Regions from separate parts of the Homo sapiens genome. Here region 1 is linked to region 2. The links come from fine-mapping of genetic effects on plasma protein levels. A gene starts in region 2. The other region holds a variant in brackets. All regions are shown on one strand. Distances are between the middles of the regions.

The links. PIP is the chance, under the fine-mapping model, that this variant and not a neighbour inherited with it causes the effect. Sun 2018 read protein levels with aptamers (SomaScan).
Region 1: its variant is fine-mapped to the plasma level of the SLITRK3 protein (Sun 2018, PIP 0.95).

What each region holds. Positions count from the first base shown.
Region 1 is chr3:164,349,045-164,361,502 of GRCh38, forward strand. It overlaps LOC105374189 (a long non-coding RNA gene), which reads left to right. Exons shown (of 3, transcript XR_924657.2): 2 at 12,028-12,085. Among named protein-coding and RNA genes, the nearest start is that of MIR1263, 180 kb to the left of the region's middle. The variant G/A (reference allele first, on the strand shown) is at 5,010.
Region 2 is chr3:165,189,239-165,201,696 of GRCh38, forward strand. It overlaps SLITRK3 (SLIT and NTRK like family member 3), which reads right to left and starts at 7,146. Exons shown (of 2, transcript NM_001318810.2): 1 at 6,342-7,146; 2 at 1-1,613. The coding sequence starts at 1,592.

The DNA.
Region 1 (12,458 bases), 840 kb before region 2:
CACATACTGTAAGAGAAAAGGAACAGGTAGGGGAATAGTCAATTATATATCCATCTTGTACTCAGTAAATCAGCATTTTACATAAGATGATGAACATAGAGTAGCTACCTGTGAAGACATTTAATCCCTTATCTATAGGTATCTTCCTAGGAACAGAAGGAAAGGCAGTTTATTGCAAAACTCAGCTTTAAGCCTTATTTTCATTTTGGCATAGTCAAATGGAATCTCGAGTTTTAATTTTCTTTTTACAGAAGAAAAAACAATATCAATGATTATACTTTTGCAGTAATGTAACTATTGGCAATGATTGAGTCAAATATATAGCCTCACATGTTGATGGGGTATAAATTGCTATAACCACTGTGAAACACAATTAACCAATGTGTCTTAGATTTTTACAAAACATTTACTCATAACATTTAATCCACAAATCCATTTTTTAGGAATCACCCTTAAGAAAATAATTACAGAGGTGGACCCATATCTGTGTAAGATGTTCATTAGTAATTTTTGCCACAGTAAAATGTAAGAAACTATTAAAATGTCTATAAAAGCTAATGGTTAAGAAATGATATGTTAACTTTATGATGAAACACTTTGTAGTAGTAGAAGCTCTTTATTTTTTAAGAACATTCACTTACATAAAAGGATATTCATAATAAAATATTAAACAATGTCTGCTTATAATACTATTATATTTTGTTAAAATAGCATTAGAAAACTGGAAGTCAGTACTCTGAAAACTGAGTAATTATTTTGTTTTTTCATATTTTTCAAACTTTACCTTACTTCACTCATCAGAGATTGCTAGTTCTGACCTATACCATTCTCCGTTCTTTATAAGTACTGTAGAATTTCTGTACTTCAGTGTTACAGAGTCTTCCATCAAGAGACAACATTTCCCAGCCTTAGTGTAATCAATTGGTCCTAGATTCTGACCAATAGGCATTAGAAGATGTTTTCCATTGGAAATGCATATATACTCACTACCTATTTTCCCTCACAGCTGACTGGAAGTGAAGAGCTCTAGAGACACTACCTTAGATTTAGGAAAACTTATATTGATGATGTGAAGCCATCCTATTTCCTGAATCACTTGTTTCTGAACTTTTTAATGAGAAAGAAATAAATGTCTTCCTTGTTAAAGCCTCTACATTTGGACTTTCTATTGTAGCCTATGCCATGTACCATAACTAATATGTTTTATAAAGAATATTTTATTACAATATTTTTATAATAAAAGAAATCAAATGGGTTAAAAAAACAGTTTTATTATATAAAATGCATTACAGTATTTAAAAGTCATGAGCTATCTCTAACAGACCGCCTAGCCTCTTCATGCGCTGATTATAAAATTTGGAAAGTATTCTTCATATGAAGCACACACACAGACAAAAGTTTAGGAACATGGCAGTGGGACACAATTCTTTATCTGCTGCAAAGTTTTTCCATTTGACCACTACTGACCTTTTAAAATAGAAATTCTTTCTTGTGAGGGATTGTCCTTTGCATTGCAGGATGTTTAGTGACATTGTTGTCTCTACTCTAGATATCAGTAGCATTCACCCAGTTGTGACAACAAAAAATGTCTTCAGGTACAGCCAAATATCCAATGGGAAGCAAAATCACCCCCTATTTAGAGCCACTGATCTACAGTAAACTTTTACCATGATGAGGAAAAGAGTCATATAATGAAGTCATTGAGATCAGTACTATAAGAGCATTATTAATAGTAAGTGCCTTGGGTAAGACAAAGTTCAGCTCTTTGACCAAACTTCAGTCAGTTTTCTTTGTATCCTCTGATCATGTAGGTCTTGACCTATGGACTTCCATGTTTATCTTTGCATCCCTCTGTTTTAGCAAAAAAACAATTTAGTTGGTTTAGCCAGGATCCCACCCTCAATACCTGATCACTCCCCATGTCTAATCAAATTTCTCATACCTCATCATCAACAAGATGATATCTCATCATCCTTGCCTACCTTCAGCAAAAATCCTGTTAAGTCAACTTAGCCAGGAACCACCTTTTACCCTTGAAGTTTCTCTCAGTAATTTTCCATCCACTATTTGACCCCCTCCAACTGTGTTTCTGGGCTATGAATCACTTTTTCATGTGGTATTCAGAATTGAGCTAGATCTATACTGATGTCTCTTTTCTTTTATTGCAGTAGTTTTTGAGGTTTATTGGTTTTTTGTTTTTTGTTTTGTTTGTTTCCACTTAACTACTGTTCAGGTCAGATTTTTTTTGGCAGGTCCACAGAGAGCTTATATGTGTTGGAAGAAATAAAAAAATTCTGTCAACTAGAGATTCCAGGGCATTTGAGTTATGACTCAAAAGACAGTGGAATTTGGGATATGTATAATTAGTTCAATTCCAGATGCATTGTGTTTTAAATTCCTGAACATATTTTCCTACTCTTAACTTCTTGAATCATTTGTTAAATTCCTACTGTATGCCACACTTTCAGGTAGCCATCCCCTGAAGGAGAGAAATGGACCTCACTCTAGCCCAGTAGGTCCTGTGATGTCCTATGCAATTCTTTTTAATTTTGAAAAGAGAGGGACCAAAGGTCACAGGGCACTTTTACTTTATCATTTGTAGAGTATAAATGTCAGCAATGAGGGAAAAAAGTGTCTCTCTACGTTTGATAATGCCTCCTATCTGTCTTCCTTTAATGTGGATGTAGAGTACGTAATGAACTTCCATCAATAAAGCTCTATTTTTATGACAGTTCAGATTTACTGTTGTAGGCTCATATTACCAAAGATGATGTTAAGTATTAAAAAAGAAAAGAAAACTGTTCAGACTGTGGCACCATTTTCTCTAAGGAAGAAAATAGTTTAATCATTAACAATATTTATATTAATTAGCCTGTAATAGTCATCCTTTTAACCAATATTTTTATAAATATGAGTTTGAACTACTTAGTTTATATTGTTTTGTGCTCATAATTCATAGTGAAGAAATAGCATATGTCACTATTTTTTAAAATTGAATATTTTCTTATTTATTAAAATAATTCAGTTCAAAGTAAAATTGAAATTCTCAGTGCTAAGAAATATTTTTAAATAGTGTGGTTCAATTAAAATAAAAGGGTAAAAAGAACCAATGACAAATATTCATTTTGTTTTCATACCTAGTATGAAGAAACTCTTTCTTTTATTAGAGTAAGAATAAAATTTTAAGATATACTTTAATTAAAATATATAATTTTATATAAAACTATATTATATATTGTATATAAACATATTATTATATATTAACATATTATATATTAATATGTTTATTATATATTAACATAATATATAATAAAGTTACATCTGTCAAGCTTAACAGGCAGAAATTTAAATGCAAAAATATACCACATAGGTGATATTGTAAGAATGACACTTTAATCTGAAGTCAATTGTTAGACTATGATTTAAGCATAGTGTTATATGTATGTAATCCAAGATACAACTAGATTTGCATTGACACATGAGTTTTAGTCATATCAATATTTAGGTCATAATTCCCAGAAGATGACTGGTTAACATGAAAAATTCTCAAAAGTCTTTAGTGTTCTCCCAAGGGTTAGTAAACCTTTTCCTGAATGTGACATTTTGAACAAGAGTAAATTGTTCATTTCTGTGGACATTTTCTGTTGTGATAAAGATTTCCAAGTAAGTGGAGCCCTTCAATTGAGCAAGCATTCACTTTACTGGAGATACTTTCATATACTGTTGTGTACTTTGTGATTCCTAAAAGGTGTATGGTTATTCCAATGCTCACTCATATTTGGTGTTAACCTCACAGACCAACTTTTGTTTCAGAGGCAGATTTAAAATATACTTTTAATTTACTTTAACATCAAATTTATAGTGTAGTAATGAGCCACATACAAAAAGAATATGATGATACAGTTTCTAGCCTATATCATTTCCTTTTACTGTATTTATTTGTTTATTTTCCACTGGTAAGCTATAATAGTATCATCAAATAAACTCAAACAATAACCTAGATACAGACATTGTGTTCTCTAAATAAACCAAAGTCACCCTAATAAATCAATCAAAACTCCCAAGCTGTTTTTGTATGGAGCCACTAAAGCAAAGTTCTTTGTAGCAAACAAAATTGCCAGAGGCTTTTGGCTAATAACTGTTAAATACTTAATGACTCTTAAAAGCCTGAGTCTCCAGCTTTGGTTTATTCTTAAGTATTGAAAGCTTTGTCTGACCTTGAATCCACATCCTTAATAGCCTCAGAAATGATTGTTTTGTCCTCCTTCAGATAGCATTTTCAAAACATATAAATACATGATGTCACAATTAAGAATTTAAGAAATATAACCTCAGCATCTTACCACAAATGTTTTCTTTTAATAATAAAACCAAATCTATCTGCATGTGTCATCTTAGGTTTGAATGGTGACTTGATAATAGATAATGGGCACTTACCAAAATGCATAATCTTGTAAGAAGACCTCAAAAATAAAAATACTACAGAGTACTTTTCTTATTTTTTCAAAGAAAGAGTATGCTCATTAAATTATTTTTAAAGAATTTATATAATTATTTACTCATACCTAATTTCAATGATATAATTAAATAAATGTAATTTGGCAGTATTATATTGTTTTTAAGCTTAAGTGTCATTCTATACATTTACTCTTCAGTTAATTTTCAGTCACCTTTTCATTTTATAGAGAAAAATTACCATAAATACTCAATCTGCTTTCTGAGATGTGATTTTACATTTCATGCAGGATGAGCTGCAGGAGGTTTAAAGTGAAACACAAAATCCATTCCCACAGTATCTCACACAATCTGAATTAGAGACCTTTAACAAACCTCTCCTAGAAGATCCAGACATCTGTGGGATTGCTTCAAACATCTGTTCTAATAACAAAATTATTTTTTATTTTTGAAACAAGAAAATAAAAGCCTCATCATATGTATATTGGAAATTAAACCTAGTTGATTTGAAGGAGTCAGTCAATTAGTCAGTTGATTAGTCAATCAACTGCAAA[G/A]CCATAAGACAAGGTGTTTATTGGGGTTTTATGAATTTCATTTCAGGAAACAAACTCCACTAAAGACCAAATTATGTTCTGAAGAGAGGGATGAGAGTAGAGATTTTTAAAAGGACTCAGAGTGATCATACCAGTTGTTTTGAAGGAAATATCTTTGGTGTAGGCAACAGGCTTAGTACATGTTCATAGTTCATTGGTTGTCACTGTATAAGAGTTGCAGCACTGAAGAAATTCACCTGTTTTCCAGGGTGACGCGATCATGGCACTTTGGCCTTGTTCAAAGATTTAAGACAAGTTAATACAGTCATTCTTAGAATGGCTTCTGAACTCTATCTTAGAGCTGTGAACCAGGAAGACACCTCTTTGTATATTACATTACATTTCACAAAGGTTTAACATTTTACTATCAAGCTAAATATATATTCAAATACCATGGCTGTGATAAGTTAGTATACAGTTATTAAAATCTACAAAAGATACTGTATTATGAAAATACATATCACCTATTTTAAAAGTGAAGTTAAAAGAAGAAACTAATATTTACAATAGTTTAGGGTCTCTGGAACTCAACAAGCATGAGGTCAAATAATATTTATGTCAGATTTAAGGTGATTTTCCTTCTCATACTTCCACAAAGGGTTAGTTAACTATATCTTATAGTCTGAGTAAAATGTTGACATAAAATCTTGTCCCTTTCTCGTATGTTATAGATATAAATGGATTGGAAGATTATAAGTCATAAGATGGGATTGCTGTTGAAATAAAAATATTGCATGATTCGCCTGACTTCTAGATGAAACCAAGAAAAACTGCACATTATCCCTTGCATATTACAGTAAAACAAAATTGGAAATAGAACTAGAACCTGAAAAAAATAAGTACAAATTGGAGTAGATACAGTTAAAACTATAAAATTTATATTACATATATAATACTTGCAACTATAATCTATAAACATACGTGTTCATGGTTATATTCCACTTACTTAAATGCCTAGAGCAAAATATGTAATCTATTTATTATTGAACCACCTAAAACAGTTATAAAACTATCAATAAACTTTTGAATACTGGAATTTAATTAATTATATCAACATTTAATGCAGCGCCTGAGTATAGTGTATAGCTGAGAAAAGAATTAAAACTAATGTAATACCAGATTTCTGTTCTTAAAGAGCTCATAGTCTACAGAATAATTTAGATGTAGAAATTAAAATATGGATTTCTGGAAGAGTACTTAAATATAACAAAAACAGAAAACAAGAATAAATAATCAATAACGGAATTTTCTATAAACTTTTTGTGGAATGTTAAATAATCCAAAATATATCAATCTCACAATAGGTATTTTTTTAAATAGTGCCATTTTGAAATCAATAATTTCAAGCTAGTGTATATCCAGACCTACTCCATATCTCACTGAAACCCTGTCTAAAATATAAAACTAAAAGAACCAAAGGAAAAGCCCAAAAACACAAAGATATTCAAGAGAATAAAGCATTTCCAGCAGATAAAATCGCAGTTAATTTTTCAAAAACAAAGAGGATGAAGGTTGTTTACTGATAATTACATATTACATAAATATAAAATTTAATGTGGGTTGAGGGAATCTTTATTGAAAATGGAGAGATTCAACTGAAAATATAGGCAGCCTATTAATAATCCTTAATTAAAATACAGGATATCCCTTTGGCTAAAGAAAGAATTATTTTTAGGGGCAGGAAAGAATTATTCTGGGGAAAGTTAATTCTTTTAGTGTACGCATTAGTTCCACCAAATAAAAACTTTGCATTGAGGTTTTGGAGAAACCTCATCCTGACAATCCGTTGTCTGACAGCTCTTTCTAATGTGAAATTTGTCCTGACAAAAATACAAACTTCTTACAGTAACAGTTGTCACACTGAGATACCTAGCAGAGAAGGCCTACTTACAATATACCACAGGACAGCTCTCAGCTCTTTTGTTCTTATGCCTGTACTATGAAAAGACAATGACCAAAAACATATGAACAGATCAGTAATATGTTAAAAAAAAATACCAGTTTATAACAATATCAGAAAAAATGCAATATTCGAAAAAGACATAATAATTTGGCAAAGAAAAGAGAACTTTAAAAAACAACTTGAATAAATATACTCACAATAGTAAGACACCCTTAAAGTAAGAATTTTGTGCCATGAAGTGAGCAGAAAACTCTGTATAGTGCTCTTGGAGATTAAAAAGCAGGCAAGGAGGCAAAGTCTTCTTAAAGTTTTGGGGTAATGTTTGTAACCGAGCAGGATATACTCAGTAAAGTATCGAGAAAATATAACATGAAATCATTATCAAACATAAACATCCTTAAAATATTTTTCTCTTTTGTACCCTTCACTTAGAAATTTAGTTGAGATTATCTTCAGCAAAATGGGGAAGTAAATGAAAGAGTAGAAGTGTATAAGATCTAGAAAATGGCAGTGCTATACCAGAGAACATGAGGTTTTCAGGGATGGGAAGATAGGGTTATCAGGAGAGACAACTGATTTTTTAAATGAAACACTTGAAAGAATAATAAAACCTTAATATTTAATAAAAAATGAAAAATTTAGAGGAACAAATATTTTTTTAAAAAATTAACAATTCAAATATAAAGCTAATTAAAATGTGGCCTGATTATAAAAAACAAACAAGAAACTAAGAACATATAAAAAAGTGAGAGAAAAAGAATCAGTTTAGGCTTGATGCTACATAAACAAAAAATCTCCTTCAAGTGCCCTAGAGATCCAGACACATTACCTATAGAGAAAAAAATAAAATCCCAGAACTCTACTTGAAGTGAAAATAATTGCATAATCACAGCAAGATAAATGCCATTAATTTTTTTTTCAACATCTAGGATCAACCTAGGGAAAAAGTGCAGAAGACTTGGCAGTCAGAGAGAGCATGAATATTAATGACTTGGCAATAATAAAAGCAATAGTGTAGATATTGATAGAAGGCAGACCACAGATATTGAGTGAAGGTATTAGGAGAAAAGTTGGAAGTATGTGGAATCTAATAGCATCATCTCACATAAAGTTTTCTTGAAAGACTGAAATAAAAGTGTATTGTTAATAATTTATAATTGAAAAACAAAAAGTATACCAATGTCAGATATTAGGAGGTGTAGGGGGAGGGATAGTTCCAACTTCCATAGCATAAAATTTTTAGATACATCTTGGCACTGAAAATTAAAGCATATCTTGAAACTGCTTTTTCTTGATTACCATAAACTAATTTCCATGTTACTTTTTCCTCCTGGGTTAACTGAAATTACCCAAAACAATTACCACCCTTCAAAATCTGAGCTTTTCCCTTTCTTTGTCACTACCGTAAGTTCTTCATCTCAAATAATCATATAAATCTCAAATGCAAAAACGTATTCTTCACTGTTGATACACTGAGTCTGTGATGGCAACTGTTTCTTTTTTCAGATCTTCAAATGTAAGCTGAGATTCATTTTGAAATCACCATGAGGAATAGAAATCATTTAAATATTGATGGCCTCATTTGTCTCTGCTTTTAAACAGATTAAATAGCTCACAAAAGATTCAATAACAATACTTAGAATTTTAAAGTGTAATGTCAGGGTTCATTAGAAAATCCAGGATAACAGAAAATAGCTGAATTCAAATATACCTGAGATTTTCTTGCTATTTTGCTTTTGTTCTGAATAGTTATCTTATCTGGGCTGAAAAGACAGAAGGTATTGGACAGTCCAGTGAGAATTTGCTACCTAACATCATTGCTTTTCAAGAGCTCAAGATGTTAGTTTTTTTACTCATTGGAATTTTAAAATATTGTCTTTCAAAATATCTCTATTGGTTAAAAAATAAACATAGAAAAATAATATTTGTAGAAATTATGTGAGATAAAGCAAATGTAGATATGAAAATTTTCTTTGCCAAAATAATTACACATGGACATGCACACATCTCAAGATATTTCTAAAAGTCATAACGAACATTTTCAAATATGAACAGTTCAGCCTATACTAGAAGAGAAAGGGAATTGAAATATTCAGTGGATATTAAAACTAAAGTATTAAGAATATATTTAGTCAGAAGTTACTATTTTAAGTTTCAAAAACGATAGAATTGAAACCAGCCCAATTTTCTCATAGAGCTGATATTTACAAGTTTTTATAATAAACATCAAAATTGACCCTCTGTCTTTAAATTTGAAATTTATCTTTGTCTCATCTGAGTCCCTTCCTCTGGAACCCTCAGGCAAGGAACTAAAACTCAGACCACTACATCCAGACAACGAGATGCCAGACCTCTCATCTATGATAATTACTCCTTAGCCCTCCCTAATTTTTCTCAATTTCCCTCACTATATACACTCCACAGTTTTGATCTGTTGGGTAGACAGATTTGAGACTGATACCTTGTTCTCCTCAGCTATAGCACAGGAATAAATCCTTCTTCCCTGGTAATACTTGTTATCTCAGTGATTGACTTTTTGTGCTGTAAGCAACAGATCCTAGGCTGCACCCCTGCAGTTCTGTTGTACAGAACTGTACAACCAAAAGAGTGAACTCTAATGTAAACTTCGAATTTTACTAAATAGTAATGTATCACTATTTGTTCATCTTATAACAAATGTTCAACTTATAACAAATGTAACAAAGCAAGCTATAAATTACAGAGAAACGTGCAGGAAGGAAAGATAATATGGACACTTTTTTATTCAATTTTTCTGTAAACCAAAAACTTCCTGAAAAAAGCAAGTAATAAAAAAAACTTGATAAGTGATTTTCCAAAATGATCACATTATTACAGTCATCCCTCGGTATACAATGAGGATTGGCTCCAGGACATCCTCATGTAACAAAATCCACACATACTCAAGGGCAGTTGGCCTTGTGGAACTGGTTATAGGAAAAGTTGGCCTCTGTATTTGTGGGTTTTGCATCCTGGAAATACTATATTTTCCATGCATGTTTGCTTGAAAACAGTCCACTAAAAGCGTACCTGCACAATTCAGGCCTGTGTTGTTCAAGAGTCAACTGTACTTAGATTTGGCTTTATTCTATCTAATCAGTATTAACCCTGTGTCTTCTAAACCACTCACATTATTTTAAGCAAATGCCCTATATTTGATTTTGGGAACATAGAATCTAGACTACTTGAATGATTTCCCAAAGTTGAATAGCTTACAAGAAATAGAGGCAATCAAATCAAGTCTTAGTTGTTTTGTTTGACATAAGATTATGTTGTATTATTTACTATTAAAAGTAGTTTAAGGAAATACTGGCACTTGCCATACTCAAATTAAGTACAATCACAGACTCCAATGGAAAGGTGGAGCTACAAGAACATACAATAATTTCATAATAGAAATTCACTGGTTTCCTACCTGATTTTAATTAGACTTGTCCTGTTTTTCTTCCCTCCAACCTATGACTACATTTTACCATTAGATTTTTGTACCTAAGTCACAATCTTCATTCTTCAGTTGAACAATAGTTTCTTAGTTAGAATTCATCTCTTTTTTGCAAGCAGTGTGAACCTTCTTAAGCAGTTGTGCCAAAGGAAGAACTGAATATAAAAATGCCTATGTTCCTCTCACACTCCACAGTTTCCAGTATAGCCAAACCTCAGGAAGATACTGGAATTAGGAACTAGAAATTTCTTTCTCGTCATCTACTTTCTGCTTCTGTCTCTACAGACTTGCTTTTTCTGCCTTCCTAAATTCATAGAGGAATATGACTGTCTCATGACACATCAGGTTTTTCTTCTTTAAAACATCCCTAGTTCCCACGTAAAACACAAACTCAATCAGAAATTCTAATTAAAATTTGTCTGAAAGAATAATTTGGACAGGTCTAGCTTTAGGAAGGAATCTAACCCTAAATCTCTGAACCATAAGCAAGTTTGGGAGTGATGAGAGGGTTATAAAATATTAATATGGCTTATGGGGAGTCACCCTGGTAACTAAGGGGACAGTTTTCTTATTAATATTGATCTGGATTAATGTCTGCTATATATTGGTTATTTTACTAGGTAACAAATATATAATGATACATTAAACCCCCGTCTGGGTTGGGCGCAGTGGCTAAAGCCTGTAATCCCAGCACTTTGAGAGGTTGAGGTAGGTGGATCACCTGAGGTCAGAAGTTCGAGATCAACCTGACGAATATGATGAAACCCTGTCTCTACTAATAATACAAAACTTAGCCAGGTGTGGTGGCATGCGCCTGTAATCCCAGCTACTCGGGAGGCTGAGACAGGAGAATCGCCTGAACCTGGGAGGCAGAGATTGCAGTGAGCCGAGATTGTGCAACTGCACTCCATCCTGGGAAAAGAGCGAAACTCCGTCTCAAAACAAACAAGCAAACAAACCAACAAACCCCACTTCTGGATTTCACAGAATGCAACCTCTGAGTGGAGTAATAGGCACATATGTCACTAAACTACTGCATAATAAGATCATACATATATTGGATTCACTGCTGAAAAAGCTTTGATGGTTTCAAATTTTTTTAAAGTTTCAACTTCTCAGGATGGAATCAATGTATTCGAGTATCTAACTTACCTTTTTAATGTCTTTTCCAAACAGACACAATACAGTACACAGTGAATGTGTATCTATATTTTGCTAACTAAATTATATGTTCCTTTAGTGTTGATTTCATTCTAAATGACTTTTCAAGAGTAATTACTGTATTTTATAATTCTGTCATGACACTGAAATAAGCACATACTTAGGTACACTGTGTGCGTGTGTGTATGTGTGTGTGTATGTATAAAATGAACAGATGCACAGATAAATTTAGCCACTGTTTATATTATTTGGTAACTTAAACTTTTAGCGACAAATTTATATTGGTAAATACTGATTAATGGGTTTCACTTTCTGTTTCTGGCCTAGTCAGTCTTTTCAGCCTGTTTAAGAAAGTGATGGAAAAAAATCCCTTATGGTTAATTACTAAATGTTTATGTTAGTAAAAATACATAAAGACATAATCGACTGAAATGTCTGGAAATAATTTATTGCAGGGGACCCCTACCACCAGACCTGTCCGTGGACTGTTAGGAGCCAAGCGGCACAGCAGAGGTGAGCAGTGGGCTAGTGAGCATTACTGCCTGAGCTCCGACTCCTGTCAGATCAGCAGGCGCATTAGACTCTCATAGAAACGTGAAACCTATTGTGAACTGCACATGTCAGGCATCTAGGTTGTGTGCTCTTTAAGGAAATATAATGCCCCACACCTCATTTATGGAAAATTTTCCTCCACAAAACTGGTTCCTGGTGCCAAAAATGTTAGGAATTGCTGATTTATTGCCCTAAGATATCCAACAGGCTGGACGCAGTGTCTCAGGCCTGTAATCCCAGCACTTTGGGAGACCGAGGCAGGAGGATCACTTGAGGTCAGGAGTTCAAGACCAGCCTGGTCAACACGGTGAAAACCCGTCTCTACTAACAATAC
Region 2 (12,458 bases):
CGGGCCAGGGATGTGCCAGCAAAGGCGTCTGTTGGCAGAGTCCTCAGTAAGTTATTATTGAGGAATAGCAGCTTCAAGTTGGGCATGAGGCTGAAGGCTGCAGGCTGGATTTCCCGGATGACATTGAACTCAAAGTACAAGTAGTGCAAACTCTGTAGGCCTCGGAACATGCCTGGTGTCAGCTTCTCTATATCGTTGCCATTAAGGAAGAGGCTCTTTAAGTTGGGCAAGTTGATAAAGGCCCCATCTTGGACATAGGAAATACGATTGTTCCCCAGATGCAAGAGATCCAAGGAAGAAAAATTCCAAAAATCAGAACGGTATATTTTCTGAATCAGATTGCTACTCAGATACAGTTTCTTGGCATTCAAGGGCCTTGGAAGAAGTTCAGAAATGTTATTAAATCCTCGCTCTTTGCAGTTGACAGTCAAGCCAAGGTCATTGATGTGCAAATTACAGGTACACCCAGTGGGGCATATAATGGGGATTGGTGGTCTGGTCTGATAAGGAGCAATGGGAGGCTGGTTTGGACCAGGATATAAAGCTTGGGAGGTGGAGGGTGGCCTTGGTGTTCGAGGCTGTTTGGTGGGCTTAGGCTGTTTATTTGAGGACTTGTATTCGACAGAAGAAGCAGTAAAATGAACAGAGGATAGCATTGAGGAAGGCTTAGTTGGCCATGCATTCTCCTTACTTGATGACGAATGTGGAATTCCCAAACTAGCCTCTACCTCAGAGTCAGACAACAAGGGACAGAGTTCTGTCTTCCTGATTTCTCGTAGGTCCTTTCCATGGAAGTGGAAAGGGGTCTCACAGGTAATGTCTCCCACCAGGGCAGTATAAGGAATGCGTTCCAGCCAACTCTTCAGTTGTACAATTTCACATGTACAGTTCCAAGGGTTTTCTTCCAGCTGGAGCTCCATCAGGCTTCTGCCAATGTGATCTAGCATTCCTCGGTAAAAAAGAACCTTTAACCTATTTCCACGTAGGTCCAAATGGGTTAAAGAGACAGCCTTAAATAAATTGGTTGGAAGCATGGGGATGAGATTATCATTTAAAATCAGAACCCTCAATTTACTTAGGTTCCGAAATGCCCCACTCTCAATACGTTTAATGACATTGTAATCTGCCTGCAGATATTCTAGACTTTCCAAGCCAAGGAAGGTGTCATTTCTGAAGACATCTAGTTTGTTTTCATGTAGATATAGTCTCTTTAAAATCTTAAGACCATTGAAAGCTCCAGTCTGAATGTCCTGCAATGCATTGTTCCCAAGATTAATAGACACAGCATTATTCAAATGAAGAAAACTGTTGGTATATAATTTCCTCATAGAATTCCTCTGCAGATACAGTTTAAAAGGTCTTGACCAGAACTCGGTAATCTGACTAATATTTGTAAATCCTTTACTGTCACAATGTATATGAAAGAGGCTTTCTTTAACTTCACAGTAGCATGGATCAAAACAGGGCTCATCTATTTCCTCTGAGTCCTCTATTAGGGGAATCGGGGTAGTCCATCCTAGAGCAATTGTGCTTAGAAGAATTATCCACAACATCCTTCCTCTGTGAAGCATCTCAGCTATGGAAGGTTTCATCGTTCGTGGTTGATTACAAAACTGCAACAGAAATAAAAATGCAGATTTTTAGCTTTTAGTCATATGTACTATTTTAATTGACTCCTACATGTGGGGCATTTTAAGAGCTATATAAAAACTTCAGCAATTGTTGAAGTGACACTCAAGATGAGCTAGCAACATACTTAATGTTTAGAGTGTGTCCTATATTTTAAACTTAGGAGACTCTGAAATATTGAACCATGCAGTGACATTTTCCTGAACCAAGCCATACTTGGTAAACGGCATATTGCATGAACAAAAGCAGCCTGCATTGCCTCTGTATAACAAACAACAGAACTGGTATATCGTACTTCCTTTTAGGCATAGGCAGATTCAGTAATAATGGCAATAATGTGGCCATCACACCTGTTTGCCTGTTAAAACTCATGTTGACATCAAAGATACTCATAATAAATCTGATTGGAACTCTGATGGGAAAAATATGTTCTTTGAGTTATAGGTTTTGATGATTAAAAAGACATGATATACTCCAAAATTATTATATTGATTAGTGTGATAAAGTATGAGCCTATTGCTCAATATCAGATGTTGAGATGTGTAAAATGATCAGCATCTCAGGAAAACTTAAGATTTATTTTTATGAAATGATCATAACATGCTTTATTACAGTGTATAGTCAGTATGTACACTATATGTCCACATCTTCTTGCCCAATAATACATTATTGTCATCTTCTTTAATTTAATAAATAATTTGTATATATTTGTATCATTTGACTATTTAAAACATGTAGGAGTGATTAGCCCTTCTAAAAAACATGCCCGTGCAATTGTCAGAGCTAAAGATAGGGACAGCTAGAGGATGCTGAGTCTGAAAGTGTCTGAATTAAAACATTTGCAAAACTTAGTTTGGAATGTGTATCTGCGCCTTCAAGATCAACTGAGGAACCCTGTAAAAAGCTGGAAGAGCAGGTGGCTGGTTAGAGGGGAGGTGGGTAGTTAAAGTCAAGAGAGAGTGGAAACCTCTATTCTTACCTGCTGATAAATGATCTATCACACGAAATAAATTTCAAAAAAGATATCATTCTTTTCCAATCAGAAGAAACAAATGCAGTGCACTATTCTGATAACAGTCTTTCTCTATGCATCGTTTTCCTTGCCTAATAACATCAGTATATGAAAATGTTTACATAAATGATAATAATGCAGTTTTATTACACTGTCCTTCCTGAGTCACTAAAATATCAATCAAAATTTAATAGCTGATTTTAATCAACAAAAATAAACCAAAGTTTCTAGCATATATTTTCCTCATAGAGAGCACACAGAAAGATATATTTCATCAACCTTCTTCTTAAACCACAATGATATAATTTATAGGAAAAGTGAAAGAAATAAATCTTCACATTACACTCGCCTATAATGTTCACAGCTGTAAAGAAAGGAGATACCGTGAGAAAGCAAAGAGAAATCTGCCTCAGACATGCAATACTCAAAAATTAAAAACAATTCAGTGAAAAAGAGGGAGAGAGAAAAGGCTACATTGCAGTATCAATTAGTCTTCCATCTCCCTTATGAAATATTAAAATCTACTTAAGTTCTTTCTTCACCATCTTAAATATTTTTCTTGTTTTTCAGGTCCCTATGGTTTAGGCAAAAAAGGCTACAGATGTGTTGGACTTACCTATTTTGCCAGAGTTTTTTTGGGTTTCGGGTTTTTTTGTAATTTATTTATTTATTTATTAGCATGGAACCGTGAAAAGAAAAAGAAAAAAAAAAAGCTTGAGTTTAAGGATTCTCTCTCTTTCCCTCCCCCTCCCTTTGCTTTGCTGAAGCTGAAGCAAAAGGGGATAAAGGGGGTTGGGCGGGGGGACTAAGAGAAAAAAAAAAAAAGCAGCAAGCTTGAGACGTGCTGGGAATGCAATGGGCTCTTCAATGGGCTTCTTTAGGATGCAGAACTGCCGCTTGGCACACTCAGTAGAGGAGGGAGGAGAAGGGGCTGCAGCAGGCTTCCAGCTCTGCTGCCCCTGCCGCTGCCGCCGCGGTGGCTGCTCTCTTTGGGTACCCACAGCACATCACTGGGCACTGGGAGGAAGCACAGGAGGGAGGCAGGGAGGAAGGAAGGCTCAATCACAGTGCAGAATCTCAGACTTCTCTCGCTCCGGCTTTAAAAATATATATGTGCTATAACCCTGAACCCAGCATTCCACGTCATGAAAATGAGCTCCAAAGGGAACGCGCTTAGCATGGGTTCGGGAGCGAGCACTAGGAACCCCTGACTATACAGTTGAGTGAGTGTGTGTGTGTGTGTGTGTGTGTGTGTGTGTGTAGGGAAAAGAAGTAGAGGGGTAGAGAACACAAATTGGCAAAATAAGAAACCAGAGAGAAGGGGGAGGAGACCAACCTATGGGAAACATTTCTTTGGTGAGGAAGGTGGAGATGGGGGAGGGGGGCAGGGATAGGCATTTTCTTTCTTTCTTTCTTTCTTTCTTTCTTTCTTTTTTTTTAAACTCTCAAGGAAACCATCCCCTGAATGATTTGCTCCTTTAGTTTCCAAAGCTCATCTCTCTAGTGCAGGTGGTTTGAAAAGTGAGACTATCCTTCGTAAGTATCATTTTCACAGGACAGCCATTCCCTGCAATGACGGGGATGGGGGGAAATCCAGGTCCCCAAAGCAGAAAAGCTGAATCTGTCTGATTCTGCCTGGGTGTCCCGAATAAGAGCTCAGACAGCCTGAAAGACTTGGACCGAGTTTCTCCTGCATTTTGCTTCGATCCCGTTGCACCAGGAATTCTTTTGTTGTGCTGCAGGTCAAAGCCTTCGATAGCCCCTGGATTCAACAGCATTTCTTTTCTTCCACTTTTTAAAAACAGAGACAAGCCAATTCTCTGGAAGGAGATACAGACCACTTGGGTAACAATGGTACATTTCACATTGCGCCACCGGGAAAGACCTCGCGGGATTGGGGTGGATTTAAGGATTTGGATGCTTTTGTCCGTTCTTTCTCTTTCTTATTTTTTAAACTCAAATATTTCTCCGTGAAATTTTCGGGGAGTGAATCCTAGGGAGTAGTGGGAGTGGGGGTGGAGGTGATTGAAGGAAGATATTGTATTGTAGAGGGACTACCAGATGACAGTTCAGGAACGCTTTCAGAGGAATTTTTTTAAGGCTCAGCTGACAGCACTACAGTCCTGCCTGCTGGGAAGGAATGCAGCTTGGTGGGGAAACTGGGGAGAGCCAAGTGTGCAGCAAAGGAGTCTAATCAACAGGACCCGTGTGCTGTGGATGCTCCCCATCTGCCCCCACCAGCACACACCAATCCTGTCACCAACTCCTCGCCGGGAGGGGAGAAGGCAGGGACTTTTTGGTTGCTAAAGAACTAAACTGAACCTCAATTGCCCAAGGACTCAAAGTTAGTAGGTAGAGATGGTTTTCCCTTAATGGACCCTTTACAAAAGCAAATTTTAAAGCAAAGCACAGCTTACATGTCAATTTCTTACTGCTCTAAAACAGGTAAATCACCTAACAATGTGTTCCTTAAAAGTCAGTCAAAGGCAATTTCCATGATATTTTGCATTTAAAATGACCGCACAGGAGTCCACTGGCAGACAGTAGCTAATTTTAGAAACATGCCACCATACACTAAGTAAGCAGGAGGGCAGAATTTTCTAACATTCTACCCTTAATATTCCAGACTCACCCTATTGCTCCCATAGGTCTTAGCCAAGAAGTAAACCAATACCGATAGCCTAAGCTCAGAATCAGAGCAATTCCCTCTCCCTCCCCAGCTGCCGGCACCCGCACCCTCCCCCCCATCCCCCGCCCAGCACTTTGGGTACCCAATGTGCAGAGGCGGTGACTATTTATCGGGTGTTATCGGAACCCATGATGTGATGGAATCGATGGGTAACCCGGAGGCTGCCCTGAGCTTCCAGATGACGGTAAATGTTGTCTCGGCAATGAAGTCTCTGTTATTTCTTGAACTAAAACCCCTTACGTTCTGGACCTGGGCTGTGTCCTAAAGGCTATCTCACCTTTTTCCTTTTCTTTAGCTCAGGATAGCGCGTCTAAAGGACAGGGAGGGCTCCAAAAGTTAGGGAATATTGAGCCATGGGGCCCCAGTTTTTTCCGTGTCCTGCTGGGAGCGCCCAGAGCCATTTGTTTGTCCAGAGGGAGGACAAGAAGCCCTTTCTCCCTGCTGTGCCCCCTTCCCACTTCCTCCTCCCCACTGCTGGATCTTACAGCTCACTAATTTTTTCAGATCTAAGATTAAGTATTCCAATATGGAAGCAAAACTATCTTCCCTAGAACAAATAATTAAAACGCTGCATCATTCATTTTCTGAAGAGCTTTGAGCCGTCTATAGAGCCTTTTCTAATCTGCTGTCGTCAGGCGAAACGCACAATGGTCTGTTTAGAAACGGAAAATTATTAAAAGCTCAAGCCTTTTTCCTTCTACCTCTTACAACACCAGCGAGCATTCCACTGGGGGAGGGGTCCTTCGCTCCGCCACCTGGCCTATTTGTTGGAGTTACTTACGATGTCTTCACCCAGAAAAGAGGTCCGAGGGTATGTTAGTCTCCGGTACCCCTCCTTCCACCAACGTCCTTACACCTAACTGATCCAATTCAAAACTGCAACAAACCCCTAGCACCTGTGAGCGTACAGAATACACCGCGGCCAAACTCGATGTGCTCTACAATGCACATCCTACATACGAGAAATACTGGTTTCAATTAGGCGAAGTAGGAAAGGATGGCGGCGAGTACCTATGGTGCAGAGCGCTCAGGATCTCCGAGGTTTGCTGCGAGGGGCTACCCAGCAGGAGGGGCAAACTCTCTGCGAAGCTGAATTGTATCCATCATACTGTAGCCTTGTAGCTTCTCCTCTTCTGGCCACCAACTTTCCGAAAGGCTACCGAATCACGCTTGTAATCCGTTTAAATGTTTCCACCTTTGAGACTTGCAGGGAAATGGTCGCTGCATACCAATGGGAGAGCGGGGCGCGCACCTAGCGCGGCGATGCCAGCGACAGGGAGCTCACGACCACAGCTCCCTATGCCCTCGATGGTTGGTAGGCAGGCAGGCAGAGTGAGTGTCCCAGGACTAGGTTCCTTTGATTTAAAATCTCGGTGCTCTGGATCAGTGGAGAGCTTCGTTGTTCCCGAGAGCCTGAGCTCAGTCTCTGGATTTCTCTCTTTCTCTCTTCCTCAAAGGTTGTCACTCACAGCGCAATCCCTGCCCGAGGCCTCCTTCCATCCGAGAAGATGGAATTAGCCCTTGCTTTTCCAGGGTGTCTTTGCTCTTTGCCCTTTAGGTGGGTGGGAGTGGGGGTTGGTGGCGTGTAGATGAGAGAAGAAAAGGGTGGGGAGAGGCGGAAAGGAGGCAGGAAGGGGGCGACTAGATCTCAGATCCCAGCATTGGTCAGACGGCGAAGGTGGGGGGAAAGAAGGAGAGGGGGAGAGAAGATACAAATACACAGTATGGCTGTGCACACCAAATTCCACTTGGATTTGGGAGATCTCAGGCAAAGCACGAAGGTGAAGCGATACCGTTGGCAGAGAGTGAGTCCTCTGACCGCTCACCATTCAAGCACCCTCACTTCTCGAGCGGGAGAAGGTGCGGGGGAGGGGGGTGGGAGGGGGAGGGGACTGCTGAACGTTTCAGGCCAAGGAGACGCTCGCGGCGGCGGCGGCGGCGGCATCTTTTAAGACTGACCTGCTTTAAAAGTGCCACTTTAATGGCCTAGGAAATAACTAAAATCGGATTACACGTTACTTACCAACGTCTCCTCCTAAACTGGAGCGCCAGGTCGTGTATAAGGAGTCAATATAGGAAACGCAGGGCTGGAACCTGAATGCAAATCCATCAGCCGCCCCCAAATCGCGCACCAAGGGAGCGGCGCTCGGGAGCCCCCAGATCAGCCCATCGCCGGAGCTCCGCCAGCGCGTCCCCCCCGCACCCCCGGCCCCTCCTCCGCGCCAACTGTGTAAATCAGCCGCCGCAGTCCTCTCGCCGCGCATCGCAGGCAAAATCCCGGCTTAGGAAGCAAGGAAGCAAGTGATCTCTCTCTCTCTCTCTCTCTCTGTCTCTCTCTCTCTCTCTCTCTCTCTCTCTCCTCTCTCTGTCTCTCTCTCTCTCGCTCTCTCTCTCGCTCTCGCTCTCGCTCTCTCTCTCTCGCTTTCGCTGTCCGCCTTTCCCTCTCCCCCATTATCGGTCACAACCTGGCAGCTCTTCAAGAGACACCCTGTGAAATTGAGTGTCGGGAAGTCAGCATTCTGTACCCGTGGATTGATTTGTAACTTTTATTTGCAAATGAGAGAGATGCCTGTTTGGAAAATTACAGCCCAAAAGGTGGAGGGTGATCAAATTAAGAACATCTGAGCTGTATTGGTGGGCGGTATCGCTAAACGCCTCCGGGGAGCGGTTTCCAAGTGATTTGCAGTAATCCCCCACCTTCATGATACATGGGTGACGATTTGAAAGTACACATATTTCCTCATCTGTTTACATTTGCCGGGGGCGGGGGGCATAAAACTGTAGGGCACAGGGAGTTGGGAGGGGGGCATTTGCCTGAGAGATGCTGGATACCATTTCGCGATAAATTAGATACGGACACTGGAACAATTAATACGTGTAATAACACGTATGTGAAAGTATTATTACAACATTACAGAGGCGACCATTACCCCCACTGCAGTCATACTAATGCAGTCATTCGTTTAATGCTCCATTCAATCTGCAGTGTAAACCAACGCAATTCTTTTTAATAGATCCCTTTCATCAGAGACTGTGTTGGAAAGAGGGCAGTCTTCCACTAACTCCCAAAGTGAATAGAAGGTAGCCTGGGGAATCATCTCTGTATCTCTTGCCATTTCTTCCTGAAGAGAATGCAATACATTGTCCAAGGAAGGCAAAGTTATTTAGCTATTATAATTGTAGGTAGAATGATCTTGAACCTATTTTCAAAAGCATTCAAAGAACTCTAACTCACCCTTTGCAAAGAAACAGTACTCTCTTTTAATTTATGCATAAAATCCTTCGATAGACAGGCCTGGATATATGTTTTACATCTTTATTTAGTGAATTTTGTATATACTATAATTTATACCATCGTTAGTTCATATTATTGACATATAATACCACAAGTTAGTGTCCGTATTACCTACATTAAAAGATAGGAAAGGATGGAGTTGGTCACAGAGACAGCCAGGGGCCTGTGGAATTTTTTGGGATATATACATATACACACACTCTAAATTTAGTATGGCAACTGTGTTGGTTCTGCATAAAATGAATTTAGATTATATATATATACGTGTATACGTGTGTGTATATATCATACTTACAATGTTTTCATTTGTTCTTTAAAATACTCAGCATTCTTCAAGATTATTAAGATTAGTAAAATATCTACAGGGACCCAGAAAGTAATAAAAAGCACCATGTATTAAAATGGATTCTTTTTAAATATAGCATTTCAGACTCACTGGCATGAATTCCAAACCTCTTTCCAGTATTTTCTAGGATAATAAATTCTTCCATGTGAATTTTACATACAGGAAGACATAGATATACAAAGAAAATTTGTCATAGGTGTTTCACTCACTGGGTCGCCAAATTGGGCTTCAAAGTGGTATATCTAGGCAGGGTTGCCAAAGGAGTACATCCCCATAATGAATCAGTCAGATTTAGGAAAAACCAAACTGCATCAGTAGTTTGATGTGTCACAGAGATATTTTTGGCCTTTTCAGGTGGTTGCCCAATTTGAGGAGACTCACTCCTGGATACACCATATTTTATGTGGGCAAGTGTGAAATCACACACATGCCCTTTGAGCCTCAGGGCTGGAGGATATTAAAGTAACCCTGAAAGACATTGGGCAACATCACTCCTAAAGTTACTGAATCTCTTTAACTTTTTGGAACTATTTTCAAGGTCATTTTGATGAGAGAGTTCTGAATATATTAATTTGTTTACTCTGAGCAGATGTTAGTGTGGCCTGATGGTACTGGGGAGCTGCAGAAGATTGAATAGCTAGAATAGGTTGTTAGTGTTAAACATGAGTACTACCCATACAAATATTACAGGCCAGATAAAAATATTGTAGAGTAAGTGATTATGATGGATATTTGATTTTATGTTGTGACTTTTTAGTGCTTTGCATACAGACATTTACATGTCCCTAGTTTTATTTTAACCAAACATCATTTACATTGTGAAAAAGGAGAACTCTCATTTAAAAAAAGATGTTCTTTATTGATGATGCACAATGGATAAAAGGAAAACATAAAAGTAATATATAGGATGTAATTTTTAGTTCAACAAATATTAATTATGTCTACATTGCTGATTGGTTTTTAAATTATAAACATTACAATATTTCAAATAGTTTTAATGATTCTGTCATTTTTCAGAGAGGAACAATGATATTGAAATAACTAAGATAGACTTTATTTTTTGGTCTAGCATATATTTTGCTCATTCTGATGGTTTAAATAAAATAAATACATCTTTTAAAAGATTTACTACTAATTAAACTAGGGTTAGAGAACTGTTTGTTGTATAATGAAGTAGCCACTCAAGAAAGTTCCAAACTTGAAATGTAGCTGTGGTAATCTGTGATTATGTACAGCATGTAGCCATTTACGTATTGTGTTTGTCTGTTTTTAAGCATTGTAAAAACATTTGTGAAGCATTGTAAAAAATTTGTGAAAAAAAACATTTTTTTTTCTCTTTGTTCATTTCAAATGCTGTTTAGGTCAACAAATTGCATGTCTGATAACCATCAAAACCTAAGTGCATTGTCATTTGCTTAACTTTTGATATACCACTGTTGAAACAATTGAAAATATAGTTACACACAATTTTATAAATGGGAACATAGGCTATAAAAGTTAAGCAAATAAAAATGTGATAAAACATGAATTAATATTTTTAGTTTTGTTGTATGTTTATTTCTGTAGATCTTTCTGTATCTCCATAGGAGAAACACTTTTGAAACATTTTATATCGTAGAAAAAGTTCCACACCAATTGATAATTTTGTTTTTTTAATAGCATCTTATAAGTCTTAGTGAATCAGCATAGATTTAACAAGCTATAAGTATGAAGAAGTTATAAAATATTCAATTAAACATTGATCTTTTATATCTTGTTTCACTAAAACATTTTAAAGCACTTTATAGGCATCTTCCAAATGAACCTTCAGCTTCTTTTTGAAGTAAACAAGTGTTTTAATCTTAAAGGTTATGTGAGCTATTTTGAGACAATCAGATTTAAACTATTCAATATGAACAAATGTTTATTTATAGGCTGGATTAAGCACAAAGTTATTTGTCTACTTTTAAAGATATTTTTCAAAATTATTTTGAATTAATAAATTGTAGATGTTAAGATTAAAATTACTGAGAGGGGAAAAAGTTTTAAAAGACTAAGATGAAGAGAAATAAATCAAATGTAAGTTGAAGTAAATTGATTATTGAATAATGTATCAGGAAATAAATGTAGGTGTTATATGTAATGGAAAAAGGCAAATCAGATAAGCTTTAGTGGTAGAAACATATTTTTAAATATGATATTATGAGAGAAGGAAATAATAATTTTATAGAATCATAAAATCTCAAGACTAAGAGGGACTTGGAAGGTAATCTAATCTGACCAATTACGTGATATTAGAATCTACTTCACTGTCCCCTGGCAAGTTGTTATCAAGATTATGTATATACTTTTTTAAATAAACTTTTATTTTTAGTTCCAGGGTACATGTGCAGGGTGTGCAGGTTTGTTACATAGGTAATGGAGCTTAGTGCATTTCAGAGCAGGCCATTTTATTTTTGGACAAATCCAACTGATTGAAAAAACAGTTAAGCAAATTAAAACTTCTACTTTCCATCAATTGTTTTTTTTTTTTTTTTTACCCCTAGATGACTTGTTTAAAAGTCTAAGGTAATGAACTTCCTAGTTATTTAAGTATATATTTATGCAAAGAAACTCACCTGCCAGGTAGAAATGCAGAACTAGTTTTCAAGATATGAGTTTGAGCTAGAGAAGGAGTGATTTAACTTGAAAAAACAACTGAAGCCATGAAACTACAGAATTTGTTGTAAGCAATGAAGTGACAAAATGTTAGAAAGCATTGTAGTGCTTGAGAGTTACTTCTGAAACATCCACAATATTTTAATTAGTCTTCATGGATATCCCTTTGGGAGCACATTTGAAGTTCTGTATGTGTCCTTTTAATCTACTGACTTTAAACCAACTGCATCATAGAGGAACAGTACTGGTATCAGCTACACAAATTAGACAGCCTAAACCATATATGTACATGTTTACATGTAAAACCAAATTTCTCCTGGTTTTTGACTTTTTGAAAGCTATTTGAGAACATGAATATAAAGTGAATATTTTGAAATCAGACTGATTTCAATATAAAGAACCTGATAAAAAATGCTTTCAGCACTAAGTATGGGAATAGATAAAAGTCTTCAATATGATCACGTGCTGGAATTCACAAATAATGGAAATCTTATGTACAGTCTTGCATCTTAAGTATATAACAAGAGTGTAGTGAAACACCGAATTTATTTCTTAATGTCAGTAATTCACAAAGTAGCTTAGTTCAATTAAAAAAAAAAACCCAAAAAACAAAAACTGAAGTTTCTTTGAATTTGGCTCCTTCCCTTATATTGCTGCTGAGGCTTAGGCATCTATAGCTGCTTTTAGCTACTATATTCTATCTAAGTCTCCCTTCACATTTCTATGTTGCTAAACAACAAATGTTTAGTGATTTCCATATCTGTAACTCTGCCTTTTTAGTACTGAAATTGATTTTTTCATATTTGGGCATCTAAAGATAAATATTATTCCATATGCATGTCATTTTTTC